4 linked regions of the Homo sapiens genome follow. The protein of the gene in region 3 interacts with the protein of the main gene of each other region in a biochemical or structural test. Each region holds a gene or a part of one and is shown on either strand. Other genes may lie near its edges.

Region 1 (3,500 bases), on a different chromosome or scaffold from region 3:
TTGGTAGCAGCAGAAACGGCAATGTCAGGGCCTAGGCGGAAGGTTCCCAAGTCTGCTGAGCCCTGTGCATCTGGGCTTGCGACAATACCTACACACCTCCGACCTGGGCACCCAGCTGGAAGGGCCACCTGATCGGCGCAGAAAGGCCACTGGGTGGAATCCTGGCACAGGCTGCAGATGCTGCTCCTGGGGCTTAGCACTGAGCAGTTTCCACAGGGGCCCCTGGTTTAAAGCCAGCAGCAGGACGAAGGTTCTCGTCTTACTCAGTCCACAGCTGGCCACATCTTCATTTCCCGGGGTCTCCTGTGAAGTGACTCCAGCCTGACCGCCGCTCTCTGCCGCTGCCTGGCCTGGGGTCACGCTGCAGGCTCATATGTGTACACCGCCAGTCGCCTGGTCTCCGAGACACTGCCCAGTGACTGAGGCCATCGTGGAGAGGAGGGAGAGGGCCTGGGCGCTGGGAAGGGGTCTCTCTGGGGACATCTTTGTCCAGACACCAGTCACAGCGGCCCCCAGGGCATCTCAGCACCTGGGCGCTGTAGAGTCTCTGCAGTGGCACCTCTCACGGCTCAGAAAGGCGGCGGGGCCAGACCTCGGCTTGGCTGCTCCGCTCCGCCCCTGCACACGTGTTCCCACCAGGCCTGCTGCCCCTTTGTTCTTAACACGGGCTGCTTTCTCCTTGAGACCTGAGCGACCCGGTCTCTGCCCTTGGCGAGCTCAGGCCCTGGGGAGACTCTGCCCAGTGTACCCCCTGCTCGCCTCCAGCCAACCCTAGGCTCTCCCAAGGCCTGAAGCTTCTCAACAGGGCTGGGGGCTCCTCCCCTGGCTGGCCTTCCCCTCACAGCCGGGAATTCGAACTTCAGAGACTCAGTGGCCGAGACGGGCCTGCCTGCAGTGGGAGGTGGGGCCACGTGGAGAAGGAGCACCCCGTTGGCCATAGGGGAAGGGTTCCATGCCCCTCTCCCGGCCAGCCTGGTGTCAGGTACCAGGAGGCCTCCAGCAGGGGCCACTTACTCTGGGGACGACTCTGGTGTCAGGTTGGACATCTCCTCCGGCGTCGGAACTGTGCACACAGGATGAACAGGAGGAAAGGCGTGGTGACCGCTCCATCCTTCCCCTGCCCTGGCCACCTTGCGCCGAGGTCAGGGTCATCAGGAGTCCACCCACACACACTGGGACAGCCCCCCCAGGGGCACTGGTCCACCCCAGCTCCCGGCCACCTTAGAGGCCCACTGGCAGTGGCGCCCCCCAGGCTAAGGGGAGCTGTCCCCGCCTCTGGTGCTGAAGTCGGCTGTGCCTTCTCCAGCAGCACTGGCTGGCCCTTGGTGCCCCACACATGGGGCCTCCTGACTGGCAGTGCCCCCTCGGTGGCCAGCTCTCCTTGCTGTGTGCCTGGCCCCAGGACACAGAGTGGGTAGACTCAGGAACACAGAATGTCTGGAGGGGATACCAGCCTGTGCGACAGGTAGGACACAGGCTGCTGCTGGGCGCTTTCGGGACAGTGAGACGTGGGCAGGCCCAGGCCACCCCTGCAGCTACAGGCCCCTCGGACTGGTCTGGCACTGCCGGGCGGGGCCCTCCCCAAGGCAGCCTCTGCTCTCTCCCAGCCCCACTCTGGCGCCTCCGGGCAGACACTCACCTTGCAGTTTCCGGCGGTGGAAGCGGGGTGAGCCCAGAAAGCTGTTCTTGATGGAGTTGAGCCGCGCCCTCCAGGGCACCCCTCCGACGCTGGGGCTGGACGGGGGCGTGGGGTTGGGCGTGCCAGCCGGGCTCTCCTTTGGCGTGTGGACAGGTGTCCCCTTGGGGGTGGGGAGGGGACTGCCCCTTGGTGAGGGGTGAGGGGTCACCTGTATGGTGGGGACAGATTTGGTGTTTGGTTCAATCCCGGCGGGTGGGGGCCGGGGGGGCACCCGCAGGGCAGGCGGGCCCAGGGGTGGTGCCAGCTGGGGACAAAGGCCAGTGGCGGGAGGCCGGGCTGGGGTGCTGGCCGGGAAGGGGTTGGACTTGGTGCCCTGCAGAGGCTTGTCGGTCAGCTTGGCCTTGCACGGCAAGGTCTGGGTCTTGGGGTCGGGCCGCAGGGCGGCCTGCAGAGGGAGGACGTGTCCAGGCCTCGAGGCGCTCCCACAAGCTTCGGGCTCCGTGGAGGTGGCCAGGGGGCGGGCCACGAAGGGCGGCTCGGGGGGCGGTGGGGGCAGGACAAGCTTCCTAATAGGCTACGGGGAGGCGCAGGGAGCGAGCGGGGTGGGGGCAGCCGCGCGGCACATGCACCCCAGTCCCCCGCATGCACACGGCACAGGAGGACCAGAAAGAAACAGGCGGGAGCGGGAGGGTGGGGAGGCAGGCAGGCATGGGCAGGAGGATTAGCCACAAAAGAAAAGAAGTGACACACAAGAAAACAAACAAAACAAAACAAAAGAGCGTGCAGTTAGCAGAGCAGCCTGCGCCACAGAGCAGCAGCCGCCACAGGAGCGTGGGCATGGGGGGCGCCTGGGGCTGCTTCCCAGGGTCCGCGAGGCTGCCCCCACCCTGGCACACGCTGACTGGGAGGGTTGGGGCCTCTGTGCATCCGAGCTGGGTGGGGGCGGGGGGTCACTCACCCGGGGGCTGCTGAGTGGGCTGGTGGAAAGGCCTGAGGAGGCACCGCTGATGGACCGAGACCTGGAGGTCACAAGGTACAGGGCCACTGCTCAGCCAGGGGGCAGTGGAGCAGCAGGTGCTGGGCTCTGCTCCCCCCAGGTAAACCCTCCAGGAGGCCTGGAGCCCGGGCCAAGAGCCTCGAGGCCCTGGGTCCTGCTGCACACCCTGTCAATTCAGGAGGGCCCAGGGCGCCTGGCTGTGCCCAGCCCCACTGGGGCCCCCATCAGAGCCCACGTGTGGGGGCCACCCCATGCCAGCAGCCCAGGCACAGCACAGGATACGGCATCAGACAGCCGCGGCAAAGGACCATCCAGCGTGGGGGTGGACGGAAGGACGAGGGGACAGACGGGAGCTTCCTGTATGCAGCCCCTTCTGCTCCAGGCCTCGTGCTGGCTCCAGCCTCCCACCTGCCAAGCCCCCCCTGGCTGAGCTCTCACAGGGCCTGCAGCCTGGTCCTCCATGTCCCTAGATGCCCGTGAGGGATGCCTGGGTCAGCGGCCGGCCCTTCCCTTGTCCACAACCAGGAGGGCCTGGGCAGGGCCAGGCTGGGGCAGCTGCTGGCAGGGACGGTGGGGCCTTGTCCCACCACTGCCCTACTCAGCCTGAGACCTGCACACAGCAGGAGGGAGGCCCTGGCCCGGCGTGCCCGGCTGAGACTCCGGTGTGTGGCCGCCACCCCCGTGCAGGGACCAGGACGGCTGTGCGTCGTTCCACCACACTGCACGGACGAGCCGGCGCCCACGTGCCCAGACAGTGGCAGCTGCCATCCTTGGAGGAAGGAAATGCAGGGAGGGGCCGAGGCAGCCGCCGAAGAGAAGAGGACAGAGAAGAGTAAAAGCCCGGCCTGCACTACCCACCAGGCC
Region 2 (3,500 bases), on a different chromosome or scaffold from region 3:
TGAAACCAAAATGGGGGAAAACCTTATTGTCATTCTGCCAAACACCACATAACTAAAAATGCTGCACAGTCATGAATCCAATGTACATATCACAGGATTAAAACTCCAGTTAAGCAACTGAGCTAATCATTGAAGTAAATTAAAAATACCAAGCTTCTTTAACCTATCAATGCTGTTTTAGAAGCATCATCCGAACAAATAGAGATTTAGTTATAAATTGGCCTGGGCTACATTCTGTGATGAGAATTTTGCTTAGTACTAAAAAAGAATCTCAAACATCCCAGAAAAGCTGTGGAATCATGCTCTTTATTATTCCTGAAAGAAAATTTGCCACGTTTGATGATACCTCTATTCTTCCCCGTGGTGCTAGGAGTTCTAAATACCAAGTAATTCAGAAAATGATAGGAGTATTTAAGCAAAAAGAATAGCAAAAGCAGACTTTGTATCAACATATCCTAGATAGATGGATTTTTTTAAAAATTACATGATAAATGTAAATCATAAAATTGAATGTACTTATAAAGGTACACCTATTTTGTGCTACATAAAAAAACTGTAGACTGCAAACTGTGCATGCTTACCATAACATTTTACCCGGGGTCGATGAGTGGGATTTCTTGCAAATATTTACTGCTATGATATAAAACAATTATGTGCAAACTGCAAGGTCCCTAAAATAGCAGTTAAAGAGTTTATATACAGAAAGATGTCACTATCTGATCAAATATGCAAGAGATGGAATTTCCCAGAGTTTATAACACAGAGCAATAACCACCACAGGCTCCTCCTCCTTGGCCTTCTTCCCTGTGTGACAGTTTGACTCCTTTATTCTGGTTCTCACTTTCCCACAGTCCAGGGGTCTGAATGATCTTTTCAACAAGTTCTTCAAAGGCACATTGTACACCATCACAGGTTTTTGCACTTGCCTCTGAAATTCAAGGAAAAAGGTCATTCATAGTATATTCCTTTCTGGCCATATTCTCATGTTTTTCTGGGAAACTATCAGGGCATAAATATCAGCCTACAATATATTAAGATCCAAATCAGCAATTTTTCCCCAAAGGTCAATAACTAGTGAATTTCCAAATCTCAAAATTGAGCTAATTAAATTCTATCCATAAGAATACTAGTATATAATTTTATACCAAAAAAACACTGGTTTATAATCTTAAAACTGTGATAGAATTGTAACTTGTAAAGCCCTACTTAAATAGCGAGCGAAAGTTTTTTCCTTAAGCTTTCAGTTAACTCTTACAACTTGCTCCCAAGGCAGATATTATTCCTATTTTAAAATAAAGAAATTCATACAAGTTAAACAATTAATCTGATTATTCTGTGCCTTCAACCAAGCAGCTCCAGGCAGCTGGACAAAATGACAAACCACCATGAAAACTGGTCCCACAGCAAATGTTTGCTCATGAAACTCAACTGGACACTCAGCACTGCTTCCAACCCTGCGTTTCCTTAGTGATGATCTTTCTCACCGTCTGAGATGAGTACTTTATTCCTTCCTCTCAAAACTCTATCGCAGCTAATAATCTAGCTGCATTATGCTGAGAAAATCAGAAGCAATCTGGCAAGAACTGCCTGATCATCCCACTAATAAATTTACCAAGCTACCTGCATATGTATCCTCATGCTCTGCTTTCCCTCCTGTGAGAATGGATAAACTGTCCCTGCTGCTATCCAAGCCATCGCCTTCTTTTGTTCCTGGAGTCCCATCCCTTCTCATTCACCGAAGGACCAAACGCTCTCTCTACTGGATCATACCAATCAGCCTAAAAGTCTGCCGAATTATTTTCCATCCTATTAAAAAACAAACTTGCTCTCTAGGCCACATGCCCTTCTTGTAGCCACCCATTTCTCCACTCTCTTTGAAACCTCTTCTAAAGAGTTATCCACATAAGCTGTTTCTACCTTCTTATCTCACGTTCTTTCTTCAAACTACTCTAATTAGGCTTTCATTCCCACCACTCCACTGAAATCATTCTTTTCCAAGACCACCAACACCCTTTATCTTGTCAAATCCAATATCCTAATTTTATTTGACATCTTTGGTATCTGATACTGCTAATCACTTCCTCTTCTTTTAAACAAGTTGTTCCCTTGACTTCCAGGACACTGAACATGCCTGAAAATCCTCTGAGCCCACTGACATGTCATGTGCAGCCTTGTTTGCTGGCACTTCCTCTTTCTGCTGACCTCTAATTGCTGGAATCCCCCAGGGTTCAATCTTCTGCCATTTTCTTTGTTTTGTTTTGTTTTTGAGACAGGGTCTCACTCTGTCACCTAGGCTGGAGTGCAGTGGGAGCTCCACTGCAGCCCTGGCCTCCCAGGCTCAAGTGATCCTCCCACCTCAGCCTCCAGAACAGCTGGAATCACAGGCACATGCCACTATACACAGCTGATTTTATTTGGAGATGAGGTCTCACTATGTTGCCCAGGCTTCTTCAGCCCTTTTCTATCCACGTTCTTTCCTGAAGTCACCACTCTAATCACATGACCTTGAATGCCACCTAAATGCCAATGACCACCATGTCCACCGGTTATCGGAAAAATGTCTCATTCTTATGTCAAAGTGAAATTCTTGATTCCTCACTTCCCTACCCTAAACCTGCTCTTATCTCAATCTTTCACATCCTAATTATTGGCAGCACAATCTACCTCACTGCTCATGCCTAAAACATGGAGTTATCTCTGATTGCTCTCTTTTTTTTTTTTTGAGACAGAGTCTCGCTCTGTCGCCCAGGCTGGAGTGCAGTGGCGTGATCTCGCTCACTGCAAGCTCCGCCTCCCAGGTTCAAGCAATTCTCCTGCCTCAGCCTCCCAAGTAGCTGGGACTACAGGCACCCGCCACCACGCCCGGTGAATTTTTTGTATTTTTAGTAGAGACGGGGTTTCACCGTGTTAGCCATGGTCTCGATCTCCTGACCTCGTAATCCGCCTGCCTCGGCCTCCCAAAGTGCTGAGATTACAGGCGTGAGCCACTGCACCCGCCTGATTGCTCTTTTTAATTATCCTCCATACCCAATCCACCCACAAATCCTGTCAGCTATACCTTCACTGTATCTCCTAGAACTGCCAATTTTCTACCACCCTCTACGGCTACACAGTCAAACCGCTTCTTCCTTCATCTGGGCCACTGCAAGAGAAGAACTAGTCTCTTGCTTCTGTTTCCCCTAGTCCATTTTCTACACAACAGGATCTTTTTAGAGTATCAGGTCACACCGCTGCTTCCCTACTTTCCACCACAATTGGAATACAATCCATCTCTTTACCATTTGAATGGCATCTCTCACCATCTGCCTTCTCCTTAACACACTCTATGCTCCAGTACACACGCTTTCTTCCTGTTCCTTTAACACAGTAGCCTGATTCCCACCTCAGGAAATATTTGCTCCTCTCTCAGCCTGAGATGATCTCCCTCTAGACTAGGGGTGTCCAGTGTTTTGGTTTCCCTGGGCCACATTAGAAGAAGAAGAATAGTCTTGGGCCACAAA
Region 3 (3,500 bases):
TAATAAGTATTCTTCATATAGAGGAGCTCAAGCTAGAACTGCCTGAGAAGCCTCAGGGAAAAGGCAAGGTGTAGGGTAAACATTTTTGAGTCTATGGTATGGATATGTGGAGAGCAAGGAGGGCATTAGGCAGAGAGCATCAACACACAAAAAGGAAAGACATGTAAGAGATAATAAGGCAATGGGTTTAGCTGGAAAATTTAGCAAGAGAAGAATTATGTGAGGGGAAGCTAGAAAGCTATGCTGGGGTCTAGGTGGTGAAGGATGTTACACAAAAGGTTAAGAATTTTTTTTTTTTTTTTGAGACAGAGTCTTGCTTGGTCACCCAGGCTGGAGTGCAATGGCACAATCTCAGCTCACCACAACCTCTGCTTCCCGGGTTCAAGCGATTCTCCTGCCTCAGCCTCCCGAGTAGCTGGGACTACAGGCTCCCTCCACCATGCCCAGCTAATTTTTGTATTTTTGGTAGAGATGGGGTTTCACAATGTTGGTCAGGCTGGTCTTGAACTCCCAACCTCAGGTGATCTGCCCGCCTTGGCGTCCCAAAGTGCTGGGAGCCACAGTGCTCGGCCAAACTTTGGGAGACGGAGGCAGAAGAATCGCTTGAACCCGGGAGGCAGAGGTTGAAGTGAGCCGAGATCGCGCCACTGCACTCCAGCCTGGGCAACAAGAGCAAGACTCTGTCTTAAAAAAAAAAAAAAAAAGAAATTTAAACTTTATCCTGTAGATACCCGGGACTCTTGGAAGGTGCTTGAGTAGAATGGAAGGTACTTGAGTAGAGTAATAATACAGTCAAAGGGGTGTTTTATAGTACCATTAGGAGATATTACAGGAGAGAAACTGGAGGCAGGGATTCCACAAAGGAAGCCACTGCAGCAGGGAAGATGAGAAGAGACAGAGGTTCAGACTCAGAGGTTAGTGGTGCGAAAGATAAAGACACATAGGCACCCTTTTAAAAACAGAATGCTTTTTCTGAGCCGCAATCTCACTCTGTCACTTAGGCTGGAGTGCAGTTGTGCTATCTGGGCTCACTGCAACGTTTGCCTCCCAGGTTCAAGTGATCGTTCTGCCATAGCCTCCCGAGTAGCTGGGATTACAGGCGCCCACCACCATGCCCAGCTAATTTTTTGTATTTTTAGCAGAGACAGGGTTTCACCATGTTGTCCAGGCTGGTCTCGAACTCCTGACCTCAAGTGATCCACCGCCTCAGACTCCCAAAGTGCAAAAATGCTTACGGATTAAAGTTTAGCGTGAGGAAATAAAACATAATAAATTAAACACATCATGCTGGGCGTGTTGGCTCACGCCTATAATCCCAGCACTTTGGGAGGCTGAGGCAGGTGGATCACCTGAGGTCAGGAGTTCGAGACCAGCATGGCCAACATGGTGAAACCCTGTCTCTACTAAAAATACAAAAATTAGCTGGGTGTGGTGGTGTGTGCTTGTAATCCCAGCTACTCGGGAGGCTGAGGCAGGAGAATCGCTTGAACCTGGGAGGCGGAGGTTGCAGTGAGCCGAGATGGCACCACTGTACTCCAGCCTGGGTGACAGAGTGAGACTCCATCACACACACACACAAAGAACATTTTTGGGCCGGGCACGGTGGCTCACGCCTGTAATCCCAGCACTTTGGGAGGCTGAGGCGGGCAGATCACGAGGTCATGAGATTGAGACCATCCTGGCTAAGACGGTGAAACCCCATCTCTACTAAAAATACAAAAAATTAGTCGAGCATGATGGTGGGCGCCTGTAGTTCCAGCTACTCGGGAGGGTGAGGCAGGATAATGGCGTGAACCTGGGAGGCAGAGCTTGCAGTGAGCCGAGATCACACCACTGCACTCCAGCCTGGGTGACAGAGCAAGACTCCATTTAAAAAAAAAAAAAAAAAAAGAACATTTTAGCAATTCCAGGTTCAAAATTCTAGTCTTTAGCAATGTAGGCCGCTAGCAAAGTAGCTATCCCTCTTTGGTAGGCTCATATTTCAGAGTGGCAAGGTAAGGTGTTTGCCAAAAGAAAGTTATTTAAGGATTGGTACGCAACACGATCTTAAAAAAAAAAGTTATTTAAGGAAGACAGAAGGATAAACTAACGGAATAGACAAACAGGGAAAGTAGATCTGTTTGAATACGGAAAACATAAACTGTCTCAATCTTTTTTTGTTTTGAAGTATAAACCTTTGATACAACTCAATATAAATAAAAAAAATTGAGAGTTCCTCTGAAGATTAAAGTATCACAGCAAAGGTATTTCCAGGCTTAGGAGCAATTCTCTCAAACAGGAATCATTTAAATTCTTTTTAATAGGGCAAATTAAATAATTAACACTAAACTTCTATCTGAATATATATTTGTTTCTATAGCTGGGCACAGTGGTGTGCCTGTAGTCCCTGGGCAACCTAGTGAGACTCCATCTGAAATAAAAAAACAGGAACCAAAAAAAAGGAAGAAAAGAGAATTGTATTTACAGAAATATGTCAGAGATTATTGAAAACCACATATATTTAAGAATTTAATTTTAGAAATTCTAGAATTTTCTAAGAACTTCTAAATAGAAAAATTAGAGCAGTAGTAGCACATGGGTAGCCAAAGTATTCTTTGAAGTTGGCATAAGTGGTACAGAAAAAGAGGGCAGTAGATAATCATTTATTCATTTAAGCAGCAATTTTTTTTGGTGCCCTCTTCTATGTGGCATGCCCTGTTTTAAATCCAAGGATACAGCAGTAAATTTGTGTTCACATTCTAAAGGGGTCAAAAAAAAGATGTCAAAACATATCAGATGGTTACAGTGCTAAGAAGAAAAAGCGGGGAAAGAGGAAACAGAGGTGTTACTTTACATAGGTAAAATACTACACCATGATCATGCCTAATGAACTAATGAACATTTTCTGTTAGCACGACCCTGTAAACAGATACTCAATGCTTAAAGCAGTTAGTGAGCCACATGGAAATAAGAGCGTTCTAGGCAGAGGGAACAGCAAGTGCCAGTGCTCTGAGCCATGAGCCTGCTGGCACATTTTACAAACCATAAGGAAGTCAATATGGCTGGATTGCAGACCAGCAGAAGTTCAGTGATAGGACATGAGCTCACAGAGGCTGTAGGAGCCAGACCACACAGAGGTGTGCAGTCTGTGATAAGGACTAAGGATCTTGTTCTTGGTAAGATGGGAAGTCATTCTGAAAAGGAAGAGGATTATCCGGCTTACATCTTAACAGAATCAGTCTGGCTGAAAACAGAGCTTTAAGAAGTGAAGGGCACAAGTAGAAAGACTCGCCGGAAGGCAAGTGCTTGATTGGGGCTCCAGATGGCAGTGGCTTGGGTGAAAAGGATAGTAAAAGAGGTGGTGAGATATATTTAGAAGGTAGAGAAAACTGTCCCCATTGGCTTCTTTAACATTAAAATAATTTAAGATATAATTCATACATCATAAAATTCACCATCAAAAAAGGTACGTAGGCCGGGCACAGTGGCTCACACCTGTAATCCCAGCACTTTGGGAGGCC
Region 4 (3,500 bases), on a different chromosome or scaffold from region 3:
TAATTATACATTTTCTAATACAGTGTTCTCCAGCTAGTTTTTCACAGAAGCATCTGTCATCTTCCATTCCTCACTGTGGCTCTCAATCCAGTAAGGAGAAGGAGTTTGAATATCCTGTCATATTCCTCCTTCCCTCTAGTGGTTTGCAGAGTTAAAATTTACACCACCATTAACAACCCTCTTTTTCTCTCAATTTGATTTTTAAATTCGAGGAAATATAAAGAATATCTCCCAGTTGGAAAAGTTGGAAGGATCCTTGTCATAGTGAGTACACTGACGTTACAGTACAGATGACAGCAATCCACTGTTACACACATTGAACCTTCAAGGAATAGCATACCCTGTTCTGCAGCAATTTAGTTACTTGCTGTGTTGATCCATATAGATTCTCTACCCTGAAATTGTACATATATAAAATCAACAAGCTATTTCTGAGGTGTGTATGACAACCTGAAAATGATTCCAAAGAATTATGTTACATTTTGTTCTGGTTCCCAATTTTCTTGTAGTTTTGGAATTCTCTACACACAACTGTCATCAGGGAAGATGTCATCCCTTTTTATGAGGAGATACATATATGTGAGAAATTGGGCGGAATAAATTATTCTTGAGAAATTTTATGTATCATTTCGAGGAGAAGCTGAACCCAGAACTATAAAGCTAAGGCCAAGTATGACTTCTTTCCATTGCAGGGACTTTAACTGCACTTCGAATGTGTTACCAAGGTTATGGTTACCCTTTGATGCTGTTCCTGGAAGAAGGAGGAGTGGTGACAGTCTGCAAAATCAATACACAGGAACCTGAGGAGACCCTGGACTTTGATTTCTGCAGCACCAATGTTATTAATAAAATTATTCTGCAGTCAGAGGGGCTCCGTGAAGCATTTTCTGAATTGGATATGACGAGTGAAGTCCTACAAATTACCATGTCTCCTGACAAGCCTTATTTCAGGTACTTGAGAGCAGTGCAGTTATAGTTAATGTGGTCTGTACTCCATCTTCCCACTTAGACATTTGCTTAGGATGCAAAATTTTTATTATCCACATTTTTAGAGTTTTCACAACTTTAGACAGCTTGTACTCTTACCTCATAATTTTATGGATCAAGAAACTTAAGACCCAGGAAGATTAACTCACTATTTCATATTTAGGTGGTGGTGGCATCTAGATGAGAAGCCCAGTCCTCTAATTTATAAACTGGTGGTGTTTTCATTGTACTACTCCTTACTTTCATAGATCAGGTTACATCATGAGGAAAATTGGGTTTAAGTGTTTGGAAAGGGTGTTTGTATTATGGTATCTTTTTCAAGTTAGTTCAGGATGCAGAAGAAGATGTTTTCTACACGTGGCTCATTCATTCACTAAGTATCTGTTGATCACCTACCGTGTGCTTATTCATCTTATTAAGCATTGTGGGAAGAACAGCTTAAAACCAAGGTGAAGCCAAGAAAATGTGAAACAGCAAACCATTAAGTACCAAGATAGCACACACAGATACCTGGGAAATGCTGTATAAGGATTTAGGGAGGATTGCTCAAGGCTGGCTTCCCAAGGGAGGGCAGTTTTCAGCAGGAGTACAATGTCAAAAAAGCTGTTCTTGATAGTTTAACACAAGTCTCTTTTCAGGATTAGACTCAGAGATTCTAGCAATTTAGAGAGAGGATCTAAATATTCTCTTTTTGAAATATTTCAGAATATTAAAGCCCCTAAATACATATGGAATAAAAGGAATAAGGTATTCTTTTTGTAACTACTTTAGAAGAATTACAGGCCCGGCTGTAAAAGTGCTGTGGCAGACACCTGTAATCCCAGCACTTTGGGAGGCCGAAGTGGGCAGATCACTTGAGGTCAGGAGTTCAAGACCAGCCTGGCCAATGTGGTGAAACCCTGTCTCTACTAAAAATAGAAAAATTAGTTGGGCGTGGTGGCACGTGCCTATAATCCCAGCTACTTGGGAGGCTGAGGTGGGAGAATCACTTGAACCCAGGAAGTGGAGGTTGCGGTGAGCTGAGATTGCGCCACTGCACTCCAGCCTGGGTGACAGAGTGAGAATCTGTCTCAAAAAAAAAAAAAGAAAAGAAAAAGAATCACAGGCCCTTGTCATGACTTTGGGGAGTTAAAAATTTGGCTCAAGGTCTGAGAAAGTTAACCAAAATGGAAATTGGAAACCTTACTTTAGCAGTGGAATGAAGTAAAAAATTCAGGTACTTAAAACAGTATTTCAGGGGATCTCCTCAGTGATCTCTCTCAGCCTGGGTAACGAGATGGACCATGGTATCTTTCATCTCCAGGATGGGAAACAATTTGGTGGTAGGGAGGTAGGAGTTGAAATTTTTTCCTGGATATGTTAAATTTTAAGTACCTGCGACACTAGGGAGTGGCTGGATATGTAGTTATGGTGCTCAGGAGATCCATTTAGACTGGAAATTTAGATTTGGGAACCATCATCATGGCTGGGTATGGATGAGACGGGTCAGAGAGAGAGATTATATTAGAAGAAAGAAAAGATGGACCCCAGGAAAACCACACCTGGAAGATGGGAGGCAGAAATGGAGCTTAGGGAAAACCAACCTGGATCTTATCGCCATGCTCATATAATACTTAGCAACGTGCTAATCCTGCAGCAAATGTTCCAGGAGTTCTTGCAAATTAAATCAGCATGTTAACACTTATAAATTGTCTACAAATAACTTCTGGTATTACCAAGTGAGGAAAACCATGCAATAGCCTTAAGAGCAGTCTAAGATACAGAAAAGCTGTAATTCCTAGGTGTAGGATTGGGAACAGACCTAAGGGTTGCAGTAGACTTAGATCAAGGTCTTCCATGAGTCCTCAATTCTCTCGCCTGTTATATATTTCTGACTTAAGGATGAGGAAAAGTCATTTTCAGAGTAGGATTAGGGTAATGAAATTAAAGTGTCCCCTACCCTTTTCCTTTTACAATTGATTTTCTTCAAACCCATTGATTAGTTGTCCTGAACTCCAGTGGGAGCTTTATTATGGTACTTGTTATCGTGTGTTATAAGCATTTGTGTACATGTCTGTTTCACCCACTAGTATGAATTTCTTAAGGAAGTGTTTTCTTTATTTGGATCCTAATGTGGTTTATTTTTGGATGAATGAATAAATGAGGTAATCATTTTCTATAGGTTATCTACTTTTGGAAATGCAGGAAGTTCCCACCTTGACTATCCCAAAGATTCTGATTTGATGGAAGCATTTCATTGTAATCAGACCCAAGTCAACAGGTCAGTTCTTAATATAGAGGTTGTCATTGGTGATAAAGAGGAGGTTAAATACCAGATTTCTGTTAAATAAAAACACTTTCAATCTGTTAATTAAAATGCACAGCATTTTATAAAAATGAATAGTAGAGTGCTGGACTTACTAGGGGATGTAGGGTTCTAACAGTGAATGAATTTTAAAACAGAAAATATTAGCAAATTGGATAAGTACTTGATTTTATTCTTAGATTTGCTACTTTTTATCCTTTACTTGGGA

What was found.
Region 1: the proteins of COPS5 (region 3) and BRSK2 form a complex in vitro, tested with the Homo sapiens proteins (one study listed by BioGRID).
Region 2: the proteins of COPS5 (region 3) and RAB18 form a complex in vitro, tested with the Homo sapiens proteins (one study listed by BioGRID).
Region 4: the proteins of COPS5 (region 3) and RAD1 form a complex in vitro, tested with the Homo sapiens proteins (one study listed by BioGRID).

The regions. Positions count from the first base shown.
Region 1 is NC_000011.10:1,448,934-1,452,433, reverse strand, and holds part of BRSK2 (serine/threonine-protein kinase BRSK2), read right to left. Parts: intron 2,659-3,500; coding exon 2,598-2,658; intron 2,214-2,597; coding exon of another isoform or gene 1,848-2,213; coding exon 1,640-1,847; intron 1,064-1,639; coding exon 1,015-1,063; intron 1-1,014. UniProt on the Homo sapiens protein: Serine/threonine-protein kinase that plays a key role in polarization of neurons and axonogenesis, cell cycle progress and insulin secretion. Phosphorylates CDK16, CDC25C, MAPT/TAU, PAK1 and WEE1.
Region 2 is NC_000010.11:27,535,304-27,538,803, reverse strand, and holds part of RAB18 (ras-related protein Rab-18), read right to left. Parts: intron 929-3,500; coding exon 753-928; coding exon of another isoform or gene 713-752; 3' UTR 1-712. UniProt on the Homo sapiens protein: The small GTPases Rab are key regulators of intracellular membrane trafficking, from the formation of transport vesicles to their fusion with membranes.
Region 3 is NC_000008.11:67,052,134-67,055,633, forward strand, and holds part of COPS5 (COP9 signalosome complex subunit 5), read right to left. Parts: intron 1-3,500. UniProt on the Homo sapiens protein: Probable protease subunit of the COP9 signalosome complex (CSN), a complex involved in various cellular and developmental processes.
Region 4 is NC_000005.10:34,909,005-34,912,504, reverse strand, and holds part of RAD1 (cell cycle checkpoint protein RAD1), read left to right. Parts: intron 1-692; coding exon 693-951; intron 952-3,148; coding exon 3,149-3,247; intron 3,248-3,500. UniProt on the Homo sapiens protein: Component of the 9-1-1 cell-cycle checkpoint response complex that plays a major role in DNA repair. The 9-1-1 complex is recruited to DNA lesion upon damage by the RAD17-replication factor C (RFC) clamp loader complex.